5 separate regions of the Homo sapiens genome follow, and all the other regions are reported to be linked to region 2. The links are microRNA targets in miRTarBase. Many come from high-throughput screens and were not tested one by one. Region 2 holds a microRNA gene; each other region holds the end of a gene's coding sequence.
The links. The annotated mature microRNA hsa-miR-34b-3p reads CAAUCACUAACUCCACUGCCAU and lies in region 2 at 1,255-1,276, opposite strand. An mRNA with a match to its seed (bases 2 to 7 or 8) in the 3' UTR can be bound and repressed. Matches are read on the target gene's strand: a 7mer-m8 pairs with bases 2 to 8, a 7mer-A1 pairs with bases 2 to 7 and ends in A, and an 8mer does both.

Region 1: the mRNA of TOR1A is a reported target of hsa-miR-34b-3p. Seed matches in the 3' UTR shown: 7mer-m8 at 2,615-2,621.
Region 3: the mRNA of GNE is a reported target of hsa-miR-34b-3p. Seed matches in the 3' UTR shown: 7mer-m8 at 1,585-1,591.
Region 4: the mRNA of WHAMM is a reported target of hsa-miR-34b-3p. Seed matches in the 3' UTR shown: 7mer-m8 at 2,562-2,568.
Region 5: the mRNA of CD300LG is a reported target of hsa-miR-34b-3p. Seed matches in the 3' UTR shown: 7mer-m8 at 2,128-2,134.

The regions. Positions count from the first base shown.
Region 1 is chr9:129,810,653-129,814,773 of GRCh38, forward strand. TOR1A (torsin family 1 member A) reads right to left here. Exons shown (of 5, transcript NM_000113.3): 5 at 2,290-3,570. The coding sequence ends at 3,320. TOR1B (torsin family 1 member B) reads left to right here. Exons shown (of 5, transcript NM_014506.3): 5 at 1-629. Among named protein-coding and RNA genes, the nearest start is that of TOR1B, 9.5 kb to the left of the region's middle. RefSeq lists a silencer at 1,518-1,812 and an enhancer at 1,938-1,987.
Region 2 is chr11:111,509,971-111,514,262 of GRCh38, reverse strand. MIR34B (microRNA 34b) reads right to left here and starts at 1,325; the gene lies at 1,242-1,325. BTG4 (BTG anti-proliferation factor 4) reads left to right here and starts at 1,877. Exons shown (of 5, transcript NM_001367975.1): 1 at 1,877-2,082. MIR34BHG (MIR34B and MIR34C host gene) reads right to left here and starts at 3,661. Exons shown (of 2, transcript NR_147706.1): 1 at 3,391-3,661; 2 at 375-1,245. MIR34C (microRNA 34c) reads right to left here and starts at 824; the gene lies at 748-824. RefSeq lists an enhancer at 3,022-4,221.
Region 3 is chr9:36,213,653-36,217,773 of GRCh38, forward strand. GNE (glucosamine (UDP-N-acetyl)-2-epimerase/N-acetylmannosamine kinase) reads right to left here. Exons shown (of 12, transcript NM_005476.7): 12 at 789-3,948. The coding sequence ends at 3,713. LOC124902151 (a long non-coding RNA gene) reads right to left here and starts at 359. Exons shown (of 2, transcript XR_007061474.1): 1 at 1-359.
Region 4 is chr15:82,832,666-82,836,786 of GRCh38, forward strand. It overlaps WHAMM (WASP homolog associated with actin, golgi membranes and microtubules), which reads left to right. Exons shown (of 10, transcript NM_001080435.3): 10 at 564-3,443. The coding sequence ends at 871. It also overlaps a transcript of HOMER2 not described here. Among named protein-coding and RNA genes, the nearest start is that of WHAMM, 25 kb to the left of the region's middle. RefSeq lists enhancers at 1-820, 1-133.
Region 5 is chr17:43,860,992-43,865,112 of GRCh38, forward strand. CD300LG (CD300 molecule like family member g) reads left to right here. Exons shown (of 7, transcript NM_145273.4): 7 at 807-2,648. The coding sequence ends at 920. Among named protein-coding and RNA genes, the nearest start is that of CD300LG, 16 kb to the left of the region's middle.

The DNA.
Region 1 (4,121 bases), not on the chromosome of region 2:
GTAGAACCATTTGAAATCCTAGGATGTGCTTGTTCTGGAAGGATGACATGGGCCCAGACTGAACAAGTCAGCTTGATGATCTTAAATGATGGAAGTATAGGACGTTGCTTATTTTAAAACAAGGGAAGGACACAAAATGGAATGACTGCTTAGTCCTTTCTCAGATACTCTTAAAACAATTTTTTATTGTTAAATTTGTGGTAATACATGGTCACAACCGTGGATCAAACAAGGTCAGTCTAAAGTGGCAGGTCCTAGGTGTGACCTGATACCACCACCCTTTGTGGCAGCACCGGGCTGGACTGCCCTGATCCCTGGGACGTGAGACTTAGCTTCCAGCCAGTGTGAATCATTGTATCTGTCTCATAATCACAGCACAGCTGCAGACACAACAACGTGCAGCATTTTTTACATAAAAATATGGTAGAATTAATTTATGACATGGAAATGCCTTACGTGGTATCACACTTAGTCTTGAAAAAAACACCAAGGTGACGTTTAAAATTTTTAGTACATATCCTCAAATTGGAGCTAAGTTATACTTCTTTTATAACCTTTTGGGCATCTGGTCGAGAGAAGACAAGATTTTCTCTATTTACAGTGAGGCAATAAATATGTTTGCCACCTTTGGACTGCCGTTACTGATTTGTAACTTGAAAAGGCTACGGTTGATCATGACCCCGCCTCCCCCACCTCCCTTATAAGATGTGGACGAGAGCTTTATTGACCTACTGACTATAAAATAGTAAATTCTAGATTTTATCATGTGAAATGCCACTTGCTAACTTTTTCTAGTTTATTTGGTTCCAAAGTTCAGAATGAATTTCAGCAGCACAGCTGTGAGACTCACCATATCCGGGACAGGCGGGTGGGCAGTCAGCGCGATACAGAAGCAATATTTACCTTAAAGGCTCTTCCCCAGACAAATAGAAGTTAAATTAGCTGATGGATATTTCATCAAAGAGATGGACTTTCTCCCAAAATTAACGTGGGAGGAAATTGAGGTACTGGTAAAGTAAAACTCACCTCTGACAGCCTGAACCTGAGCTCAGGTGAGGAAACCTAACCATTGAAACTGGTAAATAAATCCTGGCCGGGTGCGGTGGCTCACACCTGTAATTCCAGCACTTTGGGAGGCCGAGGTGGGTGGGTCACCTGAGGTGGGGAGTTTGAGACCAGCCTGACCAACATGGAGAAACCCCATCTCTACTAAAAATACAAAATTAGCTGGGTGTGGTGGCACATGCCTGTAATCCCAGCTACTAGGGAGGCTGAGGCAGGAGAATCGCTTGAACCTGGGAGGCAGAGGTTATAGTGAGCCGCGATCGTGCCATTGCACTCCAGCCTGGACAGTAAGAGTGAAACTCCGTCTCAAAAAAAATTCTAGTTATGCTAATCTGATCTCAGCTTAATTACACATAATCCAGTATTGTCTCATCAGTGAATTGCTAACACCCACCCTCTTCACAGGATTAAGGATTAGCAGATTTACTAGAAAGCACAAACCCTCATCACCATCACCCCACCCACTCCCTTATTTTCTCAGCTGAAGTTACTCAATTCCCAGGAGACTGACTTTCTAGGTCTGGTTCTCAGTCTTAACGCAGTTCCTATTCTACCTACACTGCCTCATCTACTAAGACTGAACCTTCCAAAACTGTCAGGGGACCCGTGTTCTCTAACTAGGGACTTCTGGTGCCTGGGCCACACTCTTCAAAGGAATGATTAGACCTAATCTGTGACTCCCAGGGACATAGCAGGCTGGCTGCAGCTCAATACCAAGAACTTTCTAACGCTTGGAGCCATCTTTAGGTGCCCTGGGCTGCCCTAGGGGGACCCCATGCAGGCTGGGAAGCCATAAGGCAGAGGGTTCCTGCGTTAGACCTGCAGTCGAGGCCACAAACTCGTCTTCTGTGCCTACTAGAAGTGGCCCCTGCAGTGCTCTCTGCAGCAGCCGCACCCATGGGAGCACTGCCCACGTGCTGGGACACAGGCATGTTGGATAAAATAAGGTGTGCTTACCTTAGTCTACGGCACTGTTCCTGCTGGCATCTCAGCTGTACTTGAACTCCGTGGCTGGGTGTCAGGAGCTCCAAGAACCCCACAATGGAGGGCGACTTCCCAGACCACTGGGCGAGGGGACAGAGCCATCCTAGGATCCTCAGATCCCTGTGTGAGACTTCGTTTCTTTCCAACCTGGATTGTTCTGCTAGGTCTTCACTCGCAGCCTTACCTCATAAGGTCTACAGTGGAGGGGCGCTTCTCCCTCTTCAAAAACGTACTCACCAATGGCACATGCAAAATTTTATTGTAAAACGGTAGCCATTTGCATTTATAAAGAAAGACACCGTTCTCAGCATCCTCAGAAGGGGCAGCTAAGCTTTATAGGAGGTTTCGGGGATTCTGATTGAACGTAACAAATAATAGTATAAATGAGGAAGATTTAATATGGCAAAATTCACATAATTTAGAATCCAGCAGAGAGCACGTGTGGGCTATTTGGAATGGACAGTGAAGGGCCACCTTTTGCAAAACGGAGTGACTGGCAAGTGACAAGTTGGAAATACTTTTCTTTCAAAAGACTGGTTCTAACAAATGTTGACAGTGTGGCCAAAATCACTCCCACAGCTCCCATTGTTGCTAAGGTGAAAACCCTTGGAGAGGCTGTTTCAGGCTTATCTGTGGTGCCTGAAGGCGTCCTCTTACCTACTTGTCCTTCACCTAAACACTTCACTGCCCCTGGCAGCATCCGCTGGGACCATCCTGGGACAGAGCTGGCTCATGCTCCAGCCACATCCCCAGGGATGCCCTCCTGTGGAACAAATGCCATGCATGTGTGCTTGGGCTCATTTCCAGTAAAGATACATCACAGTCTATGTAATAATGATGAGAACTTAAAAAAAAACACACACACAAGGCCAACAACTTAGAATCTGAGCAGTCTCTCATAATGTTAAAAATCATTTTAAATAAAGTTACCACATTTTCAATAAAACTTATTCATCCTTCCTTGAAACAGAAACACTTGGAATTAAAACATAATTTGTAAAAAATCATGAGCCCTGCGATGAGTGGGCTGGGAGCTGGCTCCTTCCTTCTGTGCGTGTTCGGGAGGCTTCACGTCCTCGCCCGTGGTCCCTGGGTGGCCTGCAGGCACCAGGGGGTGGAAACAATGCCAGGGAGAATTCCTGTCACATCAAACAGGAACATTCACTGGATTCCTCTTCCAGGGAAAGGAGCTGGGGGTGGAAGTGTGGAAGGACTGAGTGTTGTTTCTTTTCCAACTCCAGGCAGTGACTCCGGCTGCCAATCATGACTGTCAATCATCGTAGTAATAATCTAACTTGGTGAACACCGTTTTGCAGCCTTTATCTGAGAAAACTCTCTCCTCTTTGGGGAAAAATGTCATCTCCTCAGCCACTCTGCTTACAATGTCTTCATCAATTTCATAGCCTCGGGACTGCATTTCCACTCGGATACACATTTTTAGGTGTTTGTATTCCAGGGGGAGGAAGGGAACAAAATAATCAATGAGGTTCCGGTCAATTAAGCTGCTGTGCCAGAAGCCACCTGGGAAGAAGAAACAAGGTGCTGTTCATCCACATCCACCCACCTGCCCTATAGACGCCTCCTGGGGGTCACTTACCTACCCTCCCATCCGTCCCACAAACGTCTACTGGGGGTCACCTATCCATGCCACACACACCTACTGGGGGTCACCCACCCACCCCCCCCACATCTACTAGGGGTCACCCACCCTCCCATCCATCCCATACACACCTACTGGGTGTCATCCACCCTCCTATCCATCCCATACACATCTACTGGGTGTCATCCACCCTCCTATCCATCCCACACATACCTACTGGGTGTGCCCTCTCCCTTGTGGAGCTCCAGATCAGTGGGGAAGGCAGATGTTAACAGGCACCTGCACATTGTAATGCTTCTGTGACAGCAGAAGCTGTGACAGCCCTCTTTACACGGCGGGCTGGGGGAGGCCTCCCAAGGTATGACTTAAGAGATCGAAGATGGGAAAGAGGTCCTGGGGCCCAGGAACAAGCAGAGAGGCAGAGTGGGGAAGGCAGAGTTCCACAGAAAGCGGGAAGCAAGAAGAATTCCCG
Region 2 (4,292 bases):
AATTCTGAATCCTTTAAATCTTAGGAAACAAGCTGGATTTAAAGTGTAAGTGCATTTACTAATCACTCCCACTAAAAGTTGCATAGACTCCAACAGTTGTAAATGATTACTTAAAAGAAGGGATACATCTTAATGAGTGAACAGAGTCTCTTCATGGAAAAAAGAAGTATGAAAAATTTTGTTAATGTATTTCTTATAAAAGTATTAACAAGTCTGTGTGTATGAGTAGCTTTCCCGGGAGATTTTTGTCATGGCAGGAACAACTTAACCACTTCATTGATAGAAAAGTTAAGATTACTGTGGCAGGAACTGAGATGGACATCATAAAGTCAATTTAGCAAAGGAAATGGACACATAGCAATAACCACAATTTATGTCTTTATGGCACTTTATTCTTTCGAAATATTACTAACAATATTACTTTCAAAATATTACTAACAATATAGTCTCAAGAAGTTAATAATCACATGTTCATATAATAACATACATCAGTCAGCTAAGAAAAAAATCATATTCCCCCTTATATCTAAAATTTTGGTTAAGAGCCTGAAGGAATATTGAAAAAAAAACAAAACAAAACCCCACATACATACACATTACATACATTGTAAACTTAGTAGCTGAAATGTTGATTTTTTTCTTTTGGCTGAGCAATTAATAGGCAATGGATGAAATCAGCATTTTCCAACACCCCTCTTCCCCACGCACATTGATGATGCACAGGCAGCTCATTTGGACGAATTCCCAAATCTTTTTACCTGGCCGTGTGGTTAGTGATTGGTACTATTAGCAATCAGCTAACTACACTGCCTAGTAACTAGACTCATAGAAAAAATTGCAGTCTCAAGTTGGTACCCCAACACGTTGTGACAGGCAGGCAATTCATTGGTTGAGTTGGAGCTCAACTGAGTTGCTAGCTTGGTGAATACTCTACTAGACGATGGCAAATAGACACAGTGAATCACAGCATACAGTATTAACCGTTACATGGATGGAGGGGCTTCACCTCCAGGGATTTTGCTTTCCTGGCATGAGACTGTTTCATCTTCTGTGACTCCTAGAGAGAGCTAACAGTTTAACTGTATCTGGAGAAACCGCGGGTTTCCTCGCACTTGCAGCGGGCGCTCGCGGGGCAGGCTGCGCAGGACCCACGCCGACGCCGCGCTTCTCAGGCATCTTCTCTCGAAGGCTGCGGGCTGCCCGAGCCGGCGTCTTCTTCCCGGCCGGGCGGCGGTGATGCTGTGCCTTGTTTTGATGGCAGTGGAGTTAGTGATTGTAACCACCACAGTACAATCAGCTAATGACACTGCCTACAAACCGAGCACCGGGCACCCGCGGCTGCAGCTCCCGGACGGTCCGCAGCGCCGACGCGGGGTCGGGGCCCGCCTCGGACCCCATTTCACCGGGGGACGCCCTACCATGGCTGGGCGCAAGCGGCCCCCGAGGACACCCCCGGGCCCAGCGGGACCCCCGCCGGCCTCGCAGCGCACAACACGCGTAGCTGGGCCAGCGGGCGGCGCTGCCGGGGAGGACCCGCGCCCTCCCAGGCCGGGAGCCGCGCCCCGACCCCCATGACCCCCAGGAGTGCCAGGCCTCCCCTTCCCGCAGCCTCCCGCTCCTCTCAGGGCCCTCCCGCTCAGGTTCCCCTCGCTTTTCCTTTCCCCTTCGCCTCCTCGGCCCGGGCTCCCACTTCCTTCACGCCAGGCTTCAGTTCCCAGCCCCAAACCCTAGAGCTGGCTCTCTCGACCCCGTGCGCCCCGCCGCTCTGAGCGGCCGAGTGACTGTGGCGGGGGCGACCAACCGTCCTTGGAACCCCGCGGGCCGAGGGGCGGGGCGGGCGCGAGACGGGGCGGGTGGGGGAGGGGATGGGGGGGGGGAGGAGGCTGAGAGAAAGCGCTGTGGGCGGTCCCTGAAGGGCCTCCAAGGGAGACGCCTAGAAGATGGAGGCCCAGATTCTTGAGACGTTTCTCTTTCTGATCTAGCAGGAGGGACAAAGAGCTCCTCCACTCCCTCATTCCCCAAGAAGGCCCCCAGCCTACCCAGTTTCCGTGACCATTCCGCCCTGGGAAAGCGGCTTCCCAGGTACCTCAAATTATAGGTTTGAATTTTCCAAATGGAGGTGGGCTTGGGTAGCCTCTGACATATGGGAGGATGGCTTGGAGAGTCTCATCTGCACCTCTGTGCTCTGTTGGGGACTTGGCCTTATACTCTTAGAGGGCCATGCAGTGATGTGAAGCCTGGGCCTTCTAGTCAAATAGTGAGCCAGGCAGCTTGTTAGTTACATCAAATCGTGGTCCTCTTGAGATCAAGGCCATACCATTCAAGACAGTATATATATAATAAATTACTAAACTAGGGACTATTTAGAATAGTAGAAACTATTTGTATCAGAAATAGAAGGGAGGTCCTCAATGAGAGCTGTAATAGGTCAAAGAAGGTTCCCAGAGGAGGTGAGACTTGAGTAGATCCTTGATGCACGAGTACATTTGGATATTCAGGGTTAGGGCTGTGGATGCCAGAAAAACAGTATCTTGTGACAGTTGGGCAAAAGGGACAGTTACAGAGGACTTCTGGGAGATCTCTGCTAATAACTTTCCTTCCCCTCCTTTGCCTTTAATGAATTAATCAGGAGAGGATAAGGAATGTTCTCTTTATCCTCACCTTGTGAAATTCAGCTGGAAGCAGCCTCCCCTAGAAATATGGTCTTCATGCATCCAGTATAGAGCACCCATTGCTGACACCAAAGGCTTAGTTCTAAATTAGTTTCTGCAAAAGAAAACTTCCCACCTATAGATTGATTCCCTAAAACCAGCAAATGGTCTCATAGATGCCACAAGTAACATGAACAGGGGCAGGTCATCTGGATCATTCAATACAAACTACAAACTCACACTATTAAAACAACTAAAGAACTGCCCAAGGATGTTTGAATAAGTTATAGCATTTTCTTTGCATATGAAAGACAGCACTTTTTTTCCAAATGCATACTTTGTTCTGTACACCCCATAGTGAAGGGAAAGAAACCAAAATACAAAATATGTAGCACAGAAAATGTTAATTGTAAAAATTAACTCGTAGAATTAAATTGTGAAAGACAAGCCATCTACAATAACTGTATTTTGTATTCATCTTATCTTTGTGAGGGGCACGGTGTTTTAGCACACATTACATAAATGACTCACATTCACCTAAATATACATACATGAAACTAGGAGCAAAATAGTCTTCATTCCATTAACAATATGCAGACTTAGAGAAATCTTGGTTAGGAGATAGTTATAAAAATGATTCTCTTCTACCAAATTGTTAGTCACTTTTACCCAATACTATATCGAACACTTCTTCCCAACTGATGTTTTATGATTATTAGTTGCATCTTAAATATCTTACCTGAGCTGGATTGCTGCCATCCAAGGCAATGGTTGGGTCAGATGCCTTGAAAAGTAGGTTTCTACAGACTTTTCTTCAAAAGTAATAAAAAATAAAACTCATATGTAAAAGTCATGAAGATGCATTGCCTACTGAAATAACTTTTTAAAATGAGTTTATTTTCTATGTAGTACAACTAAAAATTTAAATAACGACAAAAAATATGTGTGGCCTAGTTCTGTTGAAAAAAAAAAAAGAATGCTTGTTCTTAGGGTTGCTGTTGATTTGGCCTGCAGTTACTAGAGAAACTCCAAGGATCTCATTCCCTTTATGGTTCATGTCTAGGCATGCCTGGAGACCAGGGAGACCCATGATTTAATCTAAGTAAGAATGCTTGTGGTGTTTTAAATGCCCACACAGAGGATTGCATTTGTTTTAGACAGTACAAGGAAGGCACCTTTCAGGGGAATTGTTTACTGTTTTAATTTCTGGGCTTTTGGTGATTAGGGAGATGGAAAAGGAGCTATCAGGAGAGACAAGGTTGATGACTAGGAGGAAGCCAAGAAGAGTGTAGAAAACAAATACCTTCTGCTTTAGCTTTGGCACATTTATATTGACTTAATTTACCACTTCTAGATACAAGACTAGATTGATGGGAATTGGGAATTAGAAAAGGTGGAGACAGGCCGGGGGTTGTGGCTCACACCTGTAATCCCAGCACTTTGGGAGGTCAAGGCGGGCGGATCACGAGGTCAAGAGATAGAGACCATCCTGGCCAACATGGTGAAACCCTGTCTCTACTAAAAATACAAAAATCAGCTGGGCGTGGTGGTGCGCGCCTGTAGTTCCAGCTACTTGGAAGGCTGAGGTGGGAGAATAGCTTGAACCCGGGAGGCAGAGGTTGCAGTGAGCCGAGATCGTGC
Region 3 (4,121 bases), not on the chromosome of region 2:
CAGCCTCGTGCTATTCCAGCTGACAACTACAAGTGCAGGATACTCTTGAGCTACAACTGTCAAGTTTGAGCCTTTCCCAAATCCTGACCCACAGAAACCACGACGTGAAACAATTACTGTTGTTTTAAGCTCTTCAGTTTTGAGGTTACACAGCAATAGTAATTTGGGATTGTTTCTAATGCCTGTATGAGACCCACATAGGGCCTCATAAAAAGAGGGAGTGGGTCTAGGGACTCAGTAAATGCTTAACACTTAGTTTCAAACCTCTTTCTTGGGGGCTACTTTGCTTTTTTATGCCAAATTTTCAATGTTATATATAGCAATGTTTTGTTTTTGTTGTTTTTGAGACAGGGTCTCACTGTGTCGCCCAGGCTAGAGTGCAATGGCATGATCATAACTAACTTACTGCAGCCTCCACTTCCCGGGCTCAGGTGATCCTCCCACCTCAGCCTCCTGAGTAGCTGAGACTGCACCATGCCTGGCTAATTTTTTTTGTATTGTTTTGTAGAGATGGGGTTTTGGCATGTTGCCCAGGCTGGTCTCGAACTCTAGGGTTCAAGCAATCTTTCTGCCTCAGCCTCCCAAAGTGCTGGGATTACAGGCATGAGGCACCATGCCCAGCCATGCTTTCTATTAATAGACTTTTTTTGGTTAAGAAAGCAATGATATTAGAGGCCTTAAGGAAGTTATATAACCTTCAAAACGTAAGCAGTGCAACAATTAAATCTCTTCTGGGAAGGAAAATGCTTTTGGCTAATGAGTTACGAACAAAACAAAATACAACAGGATTTCAACAAGGAAATGTATTTATTTTTTCTTTAGAATTTGGCTCAGAACAGTAACAAAAATATTTACATTAAAATAAATTAACATGCAATTACTTAACCATATGTAATAATTTACGTTGGAATATATTAGCCTTCCCATGAGTTTAATAAAAACTAATATTTGGTTTTAGATTCAATACCATCCTTTCAAATATTTGGTATGAAACTTGGTAGCAATGCAATTGTCTGATGTACAGAGCAGATTTCACCATGAGAGATTACACCAAAGAACAGATGTCCCTTCCCAGAACATTATCTCACCCCAGACTCAGAAACTGAGCAGCCAAGCTTCCTTCCCAGGAATCACCATGGAATGTCTGAACAATAACCAGGCCCTGGAGATTACTGCAGGGCTGGCAGAGTTTTAGGAATCAGCCAAACTCTTTTTCACACTAACCCACTAGGAAGGATATAGTTCAAATGTAATGTTGAGTCCTTCAGTTTATTTGAACACTGAAACAATATGTTGTAGAAACCTTCATTTTCCCAAAATAGAAATCTGAAAGATATATGCACATGATTTCTTAGATCATCTAAAAGTACCCATAAAAACCTGTCACTAGGGCCAGGTGTGATGGCTTACACCTGTAATCCCAGCACTTTGGGAGGCAGAGGCGGGCGGATCACCTGAGGTCAGGAGTTCAAGACCAGCCTGGCCAACATGGTGAAACCCTGTCTACTAAAAATACAAAAAAAAATCAGCCGGGCGTGGTGCATGTGCCTGTAATCCCAGCTACTCAAGAGGCTGAGGCAGGAGAATCACTTGAACTTGGGGGGCAGAGGTTGCATTGAGCCACTGCACTCCAGCCTGGGTGACAGAGTGAGACCCGTCTCAAAAAAATAGAACACCTGTCACTAGACCAAATACTATACTGGTAAAATTTCACAGCAGAGAGGAATATTTCATTAAATTCAGCTGATAGGGTCAAGGATACATTAAGTCATTTACAAATCAGATATTAGTATTAAAGTTTTTGGTGGCCTAGAGTGAATTAGAATATGTTAGCATTTTGAAAGTGTTTTTGAAATGAGAGGTTGTGTGGCTCAGCAGCAAAAGCACAGAGGGACCTGGGATCAAACCCTCTCTCTAGCCCCATAGCTTAACAGTCAAACACACCAAGTTCTATAAAATAAAAATTAAAACACCTACCTCATATGTTGAGATAATTTAGGATAATGTATATGAAGCACCTAGTTCAGAGCCTGGCACACAGTAGGCACTTAATAAGTGGTGGCAGTTAGTATTTCTTCCAAGTTAACAATTCATAGCCAGAACTTTGGCTTTTGTATTTTGACACCAATGAAAACACGAATCATGTAGACAGAATCCTGATTCATGGCTCTGGGCTCTAGGTAAAACTCAAAACTTTAATGGACACCCTAGGGTGTTACTCAACACAGTATGAAAGGCTACTGAAGGAAGAAGTGTCTGCTGGTCAGTAGCAAAGATCCTTTTGGGACAGTTAATCTCCTTTTAAAGGCTCTAAGTCCCAGTGGCTTCTCAGCTGTCCTAAGAAGATAAGGACAAGGTCACTAAGGCCACTGTAATTTAGATCCCTGGTCTAAAGTCTCTTGTAAGTTCAGCTAGAGTAATAACATCTTTCAACAAATGGTATCCAGGATTAGGGGGGATATCTGAGATGGGGGAGTGATAGATATGTCCAGTGTCTTGATTGTGGTGATGCTTTCACAGGTATACATATGTCAAGGCTTATCAAATTGTAGGCTTTAAAAACAATAAAGCTGTTTTAAAAAAAAGTGTACTTAAGCCCTTCCTGGTAAGATTTCCCTCTGTTCTCTGACTGGATCACCTTCTGTGATCTTAGTTTGGGGTTAGAGGAGGAAGGATGTGTGTGTGTGTGTGTGTGTGTGTGTAGACGGAGTCTCGCTCTGTCACCCAGGGTGGAGTGCAGTGGCATGATCTCGGCTCACTGCAACCTCCGCCTCCCGGGTTCAAGCAATTCTCCTGCCTCAGCCTCCCGAGTAGCTGGGACTACAGGCACATGCCACCACGCCCGGCTAATTTTTGTATTTTAGTAGAGATGGGGTTTCACCATGTTGGCCAGGCTGGTCTTGAACTCCTGACCTCAGGTGATCCGCCCATCTCGGCCTCCCAAAATGTTGGGATTACAGGCGTGAGCCACTGCGCCCAGCTGGAAGGATTATTATTATTATTATTATTATTATTATTATTTATTATTATTATTTTTGAGATGGAGTCTTGCTCTGTCACCCAGGCTGGAGTGCAGTGGTGCGGTCTCAGTTCACTGCCAGCTCCGCCTCCCTGGTTCATGCCATTCTCCTGCCTCAGCCTCCCGAGTAGCTGGGACCCGCCACCACACCCAGCTAATTTTTTGTATTTTTAGTAGAGACGGGGTTTCACCATGTTTCACCATGTTAGCCAGGGCGGTCTCGATCTCCTGACCTCGTGATCCGCCCGCCTCGGCCTCCCAAAGTGCTGGGATTACAGGCGTGAGCCACTGTGCCCGGCCTGGAAGGATTATTAATGCAAACTTCAGGATGAAGTGATATCCCAGGCAAGGCCTGAAGGTCTCAGTGGTATTAATACATTAGTAAGCAGAGTTCTAAGAAGGCTTCCTCTCTATTATTGTAGCTGCTTTGGCACAGAAAATTGTGACTGTAACTTACAGGGTTTGAGCTAAAATGACCCCTAGTAAGAAGACATCAGAAAGAATAGCATCTACAAAAATAGGAGTGGGGAAAGGTGACTCTGGAAGAGGAGACCAAAAGTGAAAACATTTCTCTGCCAAAGTCACCTGCAGTTCAATACCAGATTTGATTGTTAAGAAACGGTCATCCTAAAGACAAGAACTTGATTCCACTCAGGAGCTCTGGAGAGAAGGTCCATGTCTGTTCCTGGAGGTCTAGTAGATCCTGCGTGTTGTGTAGTCCAGAACCATGCTGGCAGCACCCAGCAGGGCGGGGTCAACCAAATCCGAAACCACCACATCCACGTCCTGCACGGAGGACAAGGCCTGCTGGCGAATGACGTCTTTGACAATGTGGATATAGTGACTGGCCAGGACTCCGGAGAGGATCACAAGGGAGGGATTCATGGTATGGAGGATGTTCACAACCCCAAGACCCAAAGCTGTTCCAGCTATAGGGAGACAAAAATTAAAATGAGTTTCTGAGAGAAGCCAAAATCAAAATACCAAAGAGGAAGGCAGAAAAGAGCCAGCAGCAGAAATGTTAAAGAACATCCACGGCATGCAGTGGGAGGCAGTGTTTTAAAAGCAGTTCACGGTTGATTCTTAATATGAGAAAATGATC
Region 4 (4,121 bases), not on the chromosome of region 2:
ATTGAGTTGCCGGTTAAAGTTTTATTTTAAGCCTTTTCATGTGTAGAAACCTACTCACTTCATTGTCATAGAATGAGTCATCACTGACTAATACCCAAGACTGAAGTTAAATTGAGCAGGATAAATTTTTTTTAAAAGATTTCTTTTAGCTGGACAGGGTAATGAAGGAGATACAGCTTCAGAGGTATCCAGGTCACGCACAGTGGGTGAGACTATTCCACCCCAGGCCTCCGTAACACTCTTCAGGATGGGAGGGACAGATCACATTTGTCTTGAAAAACCGTCATTCTAACAAAAGTGCATGTCTGTTCCTGTCAGTTGCTATGGATTTGAAGAAGTTAGCAGAAAGGAAGTGGTTAAGCTAAAACATGAGCTATTCAGCTGTCCTGGATTCAACCAGGGAGCTTATCGTTAGCACGTAATCAAGGCATTTGCTTAATGAAGTGATTATTTGTTTAAATCATGGTGTTAACTGATAGGAGATTTCACAATTTCATAGCAGTAATGTCCTGGGAAGGGAAAGTGTTTTATTGATAGTACTAGCTCTGCTTATTCAATTTCAGGATCTATGGATGAAGTGTTGGCCTCCTTAAGGCATGGCAGAGCTCCTCTCCGGAAGGTGGAAGTGCCGGCGGTGCGCCCTCCCCACGCCTCAATCAATGAGCACATTCTGGCTGCCATAAGGCAAGGGGTCAAACTGAAGAAAGTTCACCCTGATCTTGGCCCAAACCCCAGCAGCAAACCAACCAGCAACAGACGCACCAGTGACCTTGAGAGGAGCATCAAGGCTGCGCTCCAGAGAATCAAGAGGGTGTCTGCTGACTCTGAGGAGGACAGTGATGAGCAGGACCCTGGCCAGTGGGATGGTTAGGCTCAAGTTTGACAAAGGCACCTGCCACAGTAGGCTTGAATAAAGTGGGTGAGTCTTAGACCTATCGAAAAGCATACTAACAGGGTGCTGATAGATGGGCCACATAACACCCCGGAAGATCAGCAGGGCCTTGTGTAGGCTGCTGCAGCATTTTTTTTTTTTTTCTTTTTTGAGATGGAGTCTCACTCTGTCGCCCAGGCTGGGGTGCAGTGGCGCCATCTCGGCTCACCGCAAGCTCCGCTTCCCAGGCTGGGGTGCAGTGGTGCGATCTTGGCTCACTGCAAGCTCCGCCTCCTGGGTTCACGCCATTCTCCTGCCTCAGCCTCCCGAGTAGCTGGGACTACAGGCGCCACCACCTTGCCCAACTAATTTTTTGTATTTTTTAGTAGAGACGAGGTTTCACCGTGTTAGCCAGGATGGTCTCGATCTTCTGACCTCGTGATCCGCCTGCCTCAGACTCCCAAAGTGCTGGGATTACAGGTGTGAGCCACCACGCCCAGCCTTTTTTTTTTCTTTCTTTTGAGACAGAATCTCTCTGTCATCCAGGCTAGAGTGCAGTGGCACGATCTTGGCTTACTGCAACCTCCACCTCCCAGGTTCAAGCAATTCTCTGTCTCAGCCTCCCGAGTAGCTGGGATTACAGGCATGCACCACCACGCCTGGCTAATTTTTGTATATTTAAGTAGAGACAAGGTTTCGCTATGTTGGCCAGGCTGGTCTTGAACTCCTGACCTCGTGATCCACCTGCCTTGGCCACCCAAAGTGTTGGGATTATAGGCATGAGCCACCGTGCCTGGCTGATGCTGGAGCTTTTATGTGACATGGTGACTCTTAAAACTGGGGAGGGACGTAGAGATGAGAGTTTCACACACCAGCCCATAGGTGGGATGTCAAGACCCATCGGAAGTGTCGCTGGCCTAAGAGAAGAGCACTTATTTCTCACCATGGCTGATCTAGAATTGTTCCCTGATTCTGAAAGAAGTTTACACTACACTGGTAAGCAGTACTATTAGACTACTGACTGTGGCCTTCTGTGCATATGGAATAATGATTTCTCAGATTTGTAGGCTTGAATGTGAATGTTATTTTATCAGTAATCAGAATAAATTGCTTATATTCAGGAGTTATTTTAAATATTTAAATGAAATTTATTTTAGGCACCAAGCACTACATAAACTCATAATAACTATTTGCAATGCATTAGCATCACTCACGGGGTAATGAAAACATACCTTAGCTGCTGTAAAAGCAAAGTCTTCCGTGTCCGGGTGGGCTGAAAGTTTTTAATAAAATTTTAGCTAAACATTTGTTTAAGTGAATACTAAGGATGGAGCAATAGTGTTATTTTCCTCAGGAACTGAAGTCTCATGCTGAAGTATTTTCTCCTTAAAATTAAATTTTTAAAATCAGGGAAGGGGAAGGGACTGATGCAAAGCAGTCCGTTCATTTCTCAGACTGCGAGCATCCCTACTAACCTCATCACCCTCACTCTGGTGATATTACTCCTGGGTCTCCACAGAACAAAAGGAACGCACCTCGTTTACAAAGAAAGTCCTGATTGATATAGAACAGAAATCTTCCTACTTCAGTTTTTTTGTTTTTTTTTTTGAGACAGAGTCTTGCTCTGTCAACCAGGCTGGAGTGCGGTGGCACGATCTCAGCTCACTGCAACCTCTGCCTCCTGGGTTCAAGTGATTCTCCTGCCTCAGCCTCTCGAGTAGCTGGGACTACAGGCGTGTGCCACCACACCCAGCTAATTTTTATATTTTTAGTAGAGATGGGGTTTCACCATGTTGGCAGGATGGTCTCGATCTCTTGACCTCGTGATCCTCCCACCTTGGCCTCCCAAATGCTGGGGGTTACAGGCGTGAGCCACCACACCTGGCCTTCCAGTGTCTTAACTAACTGGTACACAGCAGCCTGAGGGGCCTCAGTTGGCACAGCTGGGAGGGGCGTGAGTCCCTTTCAGCAGCTGCAGCCTGGGTCTCCCTCTGTGGCATGGCCACTGCCAGGTTTCCCAGCCACTGCCAGGTTGCCCACGGGTCTGTCATGTGTGCTACCTTTTCAGAATGCAAATCCAACTCCTGTGTATGAATGAATGTGCCTCACTGTGCTGGCCCAGGCCTGATGGGCCAAGCCCTGACTCTGCACTGGCCCCTGTACCTGCCGCTCCCACCCAGGTTCCCAGGGGTGTTCCAGTGGGGGACGCAACCTGCGGGCTACTCGCTGGGCATCAGGTCCAGATCCCAGAGACAGGTCCAGTGGCTGTGGCCCAGGCCTCCTTCCCCACCACAGACAGGCCAGGCTCAGCATCAAACTTCCTAGGGAAAGAATTTGGAATTGAAAAAGTAGCAAAATCACAACTTTGTGGGACTTTTCTTATGCATATTTTGCAGTTTGGCATTGTTTGTAATTACGTATTTATAATTTCAGTATTTTGAGATACCAGCGAGCTTAATCAGGCTAAAATAATTCTCAGAATTTGCTTTCTAAGGGCTGCCAAACACAAGAGGCCTTTGAAAAAAGGATCCTTTTCAAAAGAACGTTCTCACAATAAAAATTCCTGGCCCAATTGTGTCTTCTGTGCATCAACGCTTCCTTTCCTCCTCTGGAACCTTCTCTCCTTCCTTTCTCCCTTTTCCTGCTTTTTCCAGCCAAGCCTTGAAGTCAATCCAGACTTTGGCTTCAGGGAATTCAGAGCCAAGGAAGTGGGGACAAGTGTCTCCTATTGCCCAGCTTCAGAGCTCTCCAGTCGGCCTCCAAAGCACTGCCAGTCTTCACCTCTCCCTGGCTTTCCAGCCCACACAGGAAGGGCAGCCCCTCAGCCTGGCAGACAAAACCCTCAGAGACTTGGTTGCCTCCCCTGGGCAGCCCCTGCCCCTGCCACAGGTTTTAGTCCAGCAATACCATGCTGCTTCCTGCCTGCCCCCAAAGGGCCTGCTCTCTTAAGTGCCTGGAATTCTCCCTGCACCCTTCATGTCCTGGCAAACCCATGCCCATCCTTAGGTCTCAACCCCACAGCCTTTTCCGCCAGGTCTTCTCTGACCTCTCTCTCCTATACAGCCATGTACTTTGTCTTGGGAGTCTGGTACAAAGGAGGACTGGCATCTGCTCCTAGTACAGCCAATCCTATGGATTGTCCTGGAGTGAAAAGCATTGAGCTAGGCCAGTCAGACTTGTGTATTCATCTGTTCGTCCATTCTCTCTTCAGAATTTGAACTAGGGAATCAGGCAGGTGGTAACGGCAGCC
Region 5 (4,121 bases), not on the chromosome of region 2:
GGAGCTTAGTATTCTCCCCTCCCGGCACCTCCCTGCCTTGCCCACCCCTCCCACGTTTCCCTCATCTTGCTTGGGCTTGGCTGGGCTAGCAGACCATCCCTGCTGCCAAGAACAGGCTGTTCTGACCAAGTCTCTGTTACAGCCACTGGGGAATGGCCGGGACCCAGAGGACGCTGTGATCAACCTTGCAGGGCCCATGGGGTCTCTCACCATCCCCGAGCCCTCTCCCAGCCTCTACACAGAGATCCAGTATCTAAGCCAAGTATGGACAGAAGGGCCCTGGGAAGGGAGGGGCTGAGGAGCCACCTTGCCTGCCTCCACTCTGACAATTAGAGGAAGTGGAAGGAGGCCTTTTCCTCAGCATCTGCTCCCCAAACCCCACACCCCCGCATCTACCCACCTTCCCCATTCACAGCCATAGGCCTAGCCCATTTCACCTGGGAAGCCAGAGCTTTTGACCTCACATCCTCTTTTTTTCCGGTCCAGAAAATTCCTGAATAGCTTGTTGGGAGTCACAGCTGACAGTGCTGTGGGCTGCACTGCCCTCAAGGCCACAACTGCGCCAGAACCCAGCCTGGGGCCTTGAGGGCACCCCGGGGGAGGGATGGATTGGGGTCATGAGAGGCCATGAATCAAAGCCTGGGAGTTCTGGGGAGTTGTTAGGTCCTGTGCCTCTGCAGATGGACGGAGGGCTGGAACTTGTGGAAAAGGCTGGGTGGACGCAGCAGCTACCTGGGGACCACCCCTCACACCTCCCACCCCTTCATCTGGGTTCTGCTCTCCAAACCCCACTGTTGTCTTTACAGACTGCGGAGGAAAAGGAAGCCCCTTCCCAGGCCCCTGAGGGGGACGTGATCTCGATGCCTCCCCTCCACACATCTGAGGAGGAGCTGGGCTTCTCGAAGTTTGTCTCAGCGTAGGGCAGGAGGCCCTCCTGGCCAGGCCAGCAGTGAAGCAGTATGGCTGGCTGGATCAGCACCGATTCCCGAAAGCTTTCCACCTCAGCCTCAGAGTCCAGCTGCCCGGACTCCAGGGCTCTCCCCACCCTCCCCAGGCTCTCCTCTTGCATGTTCCAGCCTGACCTAGAAGCGTTTGTCAGCCCTGGAGCCCAGAGCGGTGGCCTTGCTCTTCCGGCTGGAGACTGGGACATCCCTGATAGGTTCACATCCCTGGGCAGAGTACCAGGCTGCTGACCCTCAGCAGGGCCAGACAAGGCTCAGTGGATCTGGTCTGAGTTTCAATCTGCCAGGAACTCCTGGGCCTCATGCCCAGTGTCGGACCCTGCCTTCCTCCCACTCCAGACCCCACCTTGTCTTCCCTCCCTGGCGTCCTCAGACTTAGTCCCACGGTCTCCTGCATCAGCTGGTGATGAAGAGGAGCATGCTGGGGTGAGACTGGGATTCTGGCTTCTCTTTGAACCACCTGCATCCCAGCCCTTCAGGAAGCCTGTGAAAAACGTGATTCCTGGGCCCCACCAAGACCCACCAAAACCATCTCTGGGGCTTGGTGCAGGACTCTGAATTTCTAACAATGCCCAGTGACTGTCGCACTTGAGTTTGAGGGCCAGTGGGCCTGATGAACGCTCAGACCCCTCCAGCTTAGAGTCTGCATTTGGGCTGTGACGTCTCCCACCTGCCCCAATAAGATCTGCTCTGTCTGCGACACCAAGATCCAGCTGGGGACTCCCCTGAGGCCTGCCTAAGTCCAGGCCTTGGTCAGGTCAGGTGCACATTGCAGGGATAAGCCCAGGACCGGCAGAGAGTGGTTGCCTTTCCATTTGCCCTCCCTGGCCATGCCTTCTTGCCTTTGGAAAAATGATGAAGAAAACCTTGGCTCCTTCCTTGTCTGGAAAGGGTTACTTGCCTATGGGTTCTGGTGGCTAGAGAGAAAAGTAGAAAACCAGAGTGCACGTAGGTGTCTAACACAGAGGAGAGTAGGAACAGGGCGGATACCTGAAGGTGACTCCGAGTCCAGCCCCCTGGAGAAGGGGTCGGGGGTGGGGGTAAAGTAGCACAACTACTATTTTTTTTCTTTTTCCATTATTATTGTTTTTTAAGACAGAATCTCGTGCTGCTGCCCAGGCTGGAGTGCAGTGGCACGATCTGCAAACTCCGCCTCCTGGGTTCAAGTGATTCTTCTGCCTCAGCCTCCCGAGTAGCTGGGATTACAGGCACGCACCACCACACCTGGCTAATTTTTGTACTTTTAGTAGAGATGGGGTTTCACCATGTTGGCCAGGCTGGTCTTGAACTCCTGACCTCAAATGAGCCTCCTGCTTCAGTCTCCCAAATTGCCGGGATTACAGGCATGAGCCACTGTGTCTGGCCCTATTTCCTTTAAAAAGTGAAATTAAGAGTTGTTCAGTATGCAAAACTTGGAAAGATGGAGGAGAAAAAGAAAAGGAAGAAAAAAATGTCACCCATAGTCTCACCAGAGACTATCATTATTTCGTTTTGTTGTACTTCCTTCCACTCTTTTCTTCTTCACATAATTTGCCGGTGTTCTTTTTACAGAGCAATTATCTTGTATATACAACTTTGTATCCTGCCTTTTCCACCTTATCGTTCCATCACTTTATTCCAGCACTTCTCTGTGTTTTACAGACCTTTTTATAAATAAAATGTTCATCAGCTGCATATTCCATCCTATCAGTGTGTCTCAATTTATTTAACCAATAGTCTATCACTCGATATTTAATTTGCTTCCATTTTTGCTATTGTAGATAAGTGTGGGTGAAATTTGCCTGGGGGTTTATCTGCATTGGGAGATTTCTTTTCCTTTTTCTTTTTTTTTTTTCTTGGAGACAGAGTCTTGCTCTGTCGCCCAGGTTGGAGTTGAGTGATGCAATCTCAGCTCACTGCAACCTCCACCTCCCTGACTCAAGCCATTCTCCTGCCTCAACCTCCCAAGTAGCTGGGACTGCAGGCATCTGCCGCCACGCTCCGCTAATTTTCGAATTTTTAGTAGAGACGGGATTTCACCATGTTGGCCAGGTCTTGAACTCCTGACCTCAAGTGATCCGCCTGCCTCAGCCTCCCAAAGTGCTGGGATTACAGGCATGAGCCACTGCACCTGGCCGGGAGATTTCTTAAAGAAGGATTTGCGTGCATGGAAGTGCCAGGTCATAGGGAGTGAACATTTTTGAAGTTACTGATGCCTCTTGCTAAACAGCTTTCTGGAGTGGCAGCACCAATTTCACCCCCACCAGACCCTTGCAATCAGTGTTTCTTGAAGTCCTCTGCACCTGTCCCTGCTGGAAAGGCAGGAGAAACAGTTCAATAATGGCCCTGTGATCAGAACCTCGAGGGCCTGGGGGACTGGGTGGAGGTGGAACTGGTCTGATGAAGCTAGAGCAGCTCACCAGAAGGTGCCAGCCTGTGCCCGAGGCCTCTGGGTTGGGGTTGCACCAAGTACCTTCTCTGGGTGGACAGTGAGCTCCCAGGCCCGAACTCTGTGTGCTGCACCCAGGCTCCAGGCACTGTGTGTGCCAAGGTGTTTGGGACATAGGGAGCAGCAAGTTTCACATGGTCCCAAATCTTCTGCTGGGACCTGGGCACACACACTGTCAGAATGCACCCTAGAAGTGCATCAAAAGCAGGCTTCCCCCCTGAAAAATCCCTTGGCTGGGGTTTCCCTGGAAGGAAAGAACCCTCCTGTCCTCTGAATCTCTCCTCACCTACTGGAGCCGGGGCTTCCTGGGAACCAGGAGGTGGTCAGCTTGGCCATCCCACTCCCATCCCTCACCCATTTGCAGACTGGGCTGAATAAATTGACATATTCTGAGAGGCAGAGCTCTCTCCCAGGCAACCTAGGATTGGCATCCATGGAATTCCAAGTTTCAGTGGATTTATGAGACACATAAATATTACTCAGAGACACTCTCTTATTCCCACAGTACCACCAAGAGGGCCCAGCTCCCTCCTGACAGGTAGGGGAGAAAGACCACTCCCTTACCAGTTGACACTTTGCAATCCCCCATTTTGATACACCTTGGTTTGATGTTTGTACTTGAATACTCAGATCTGCAGTCTTTGGTATTTACGTGAGATTTTATTCAATCCCCTTAAACAAAAAGAAGCAACAAGTCACTGCTCACCTATCCTGAGAATGAGGGACTTTTG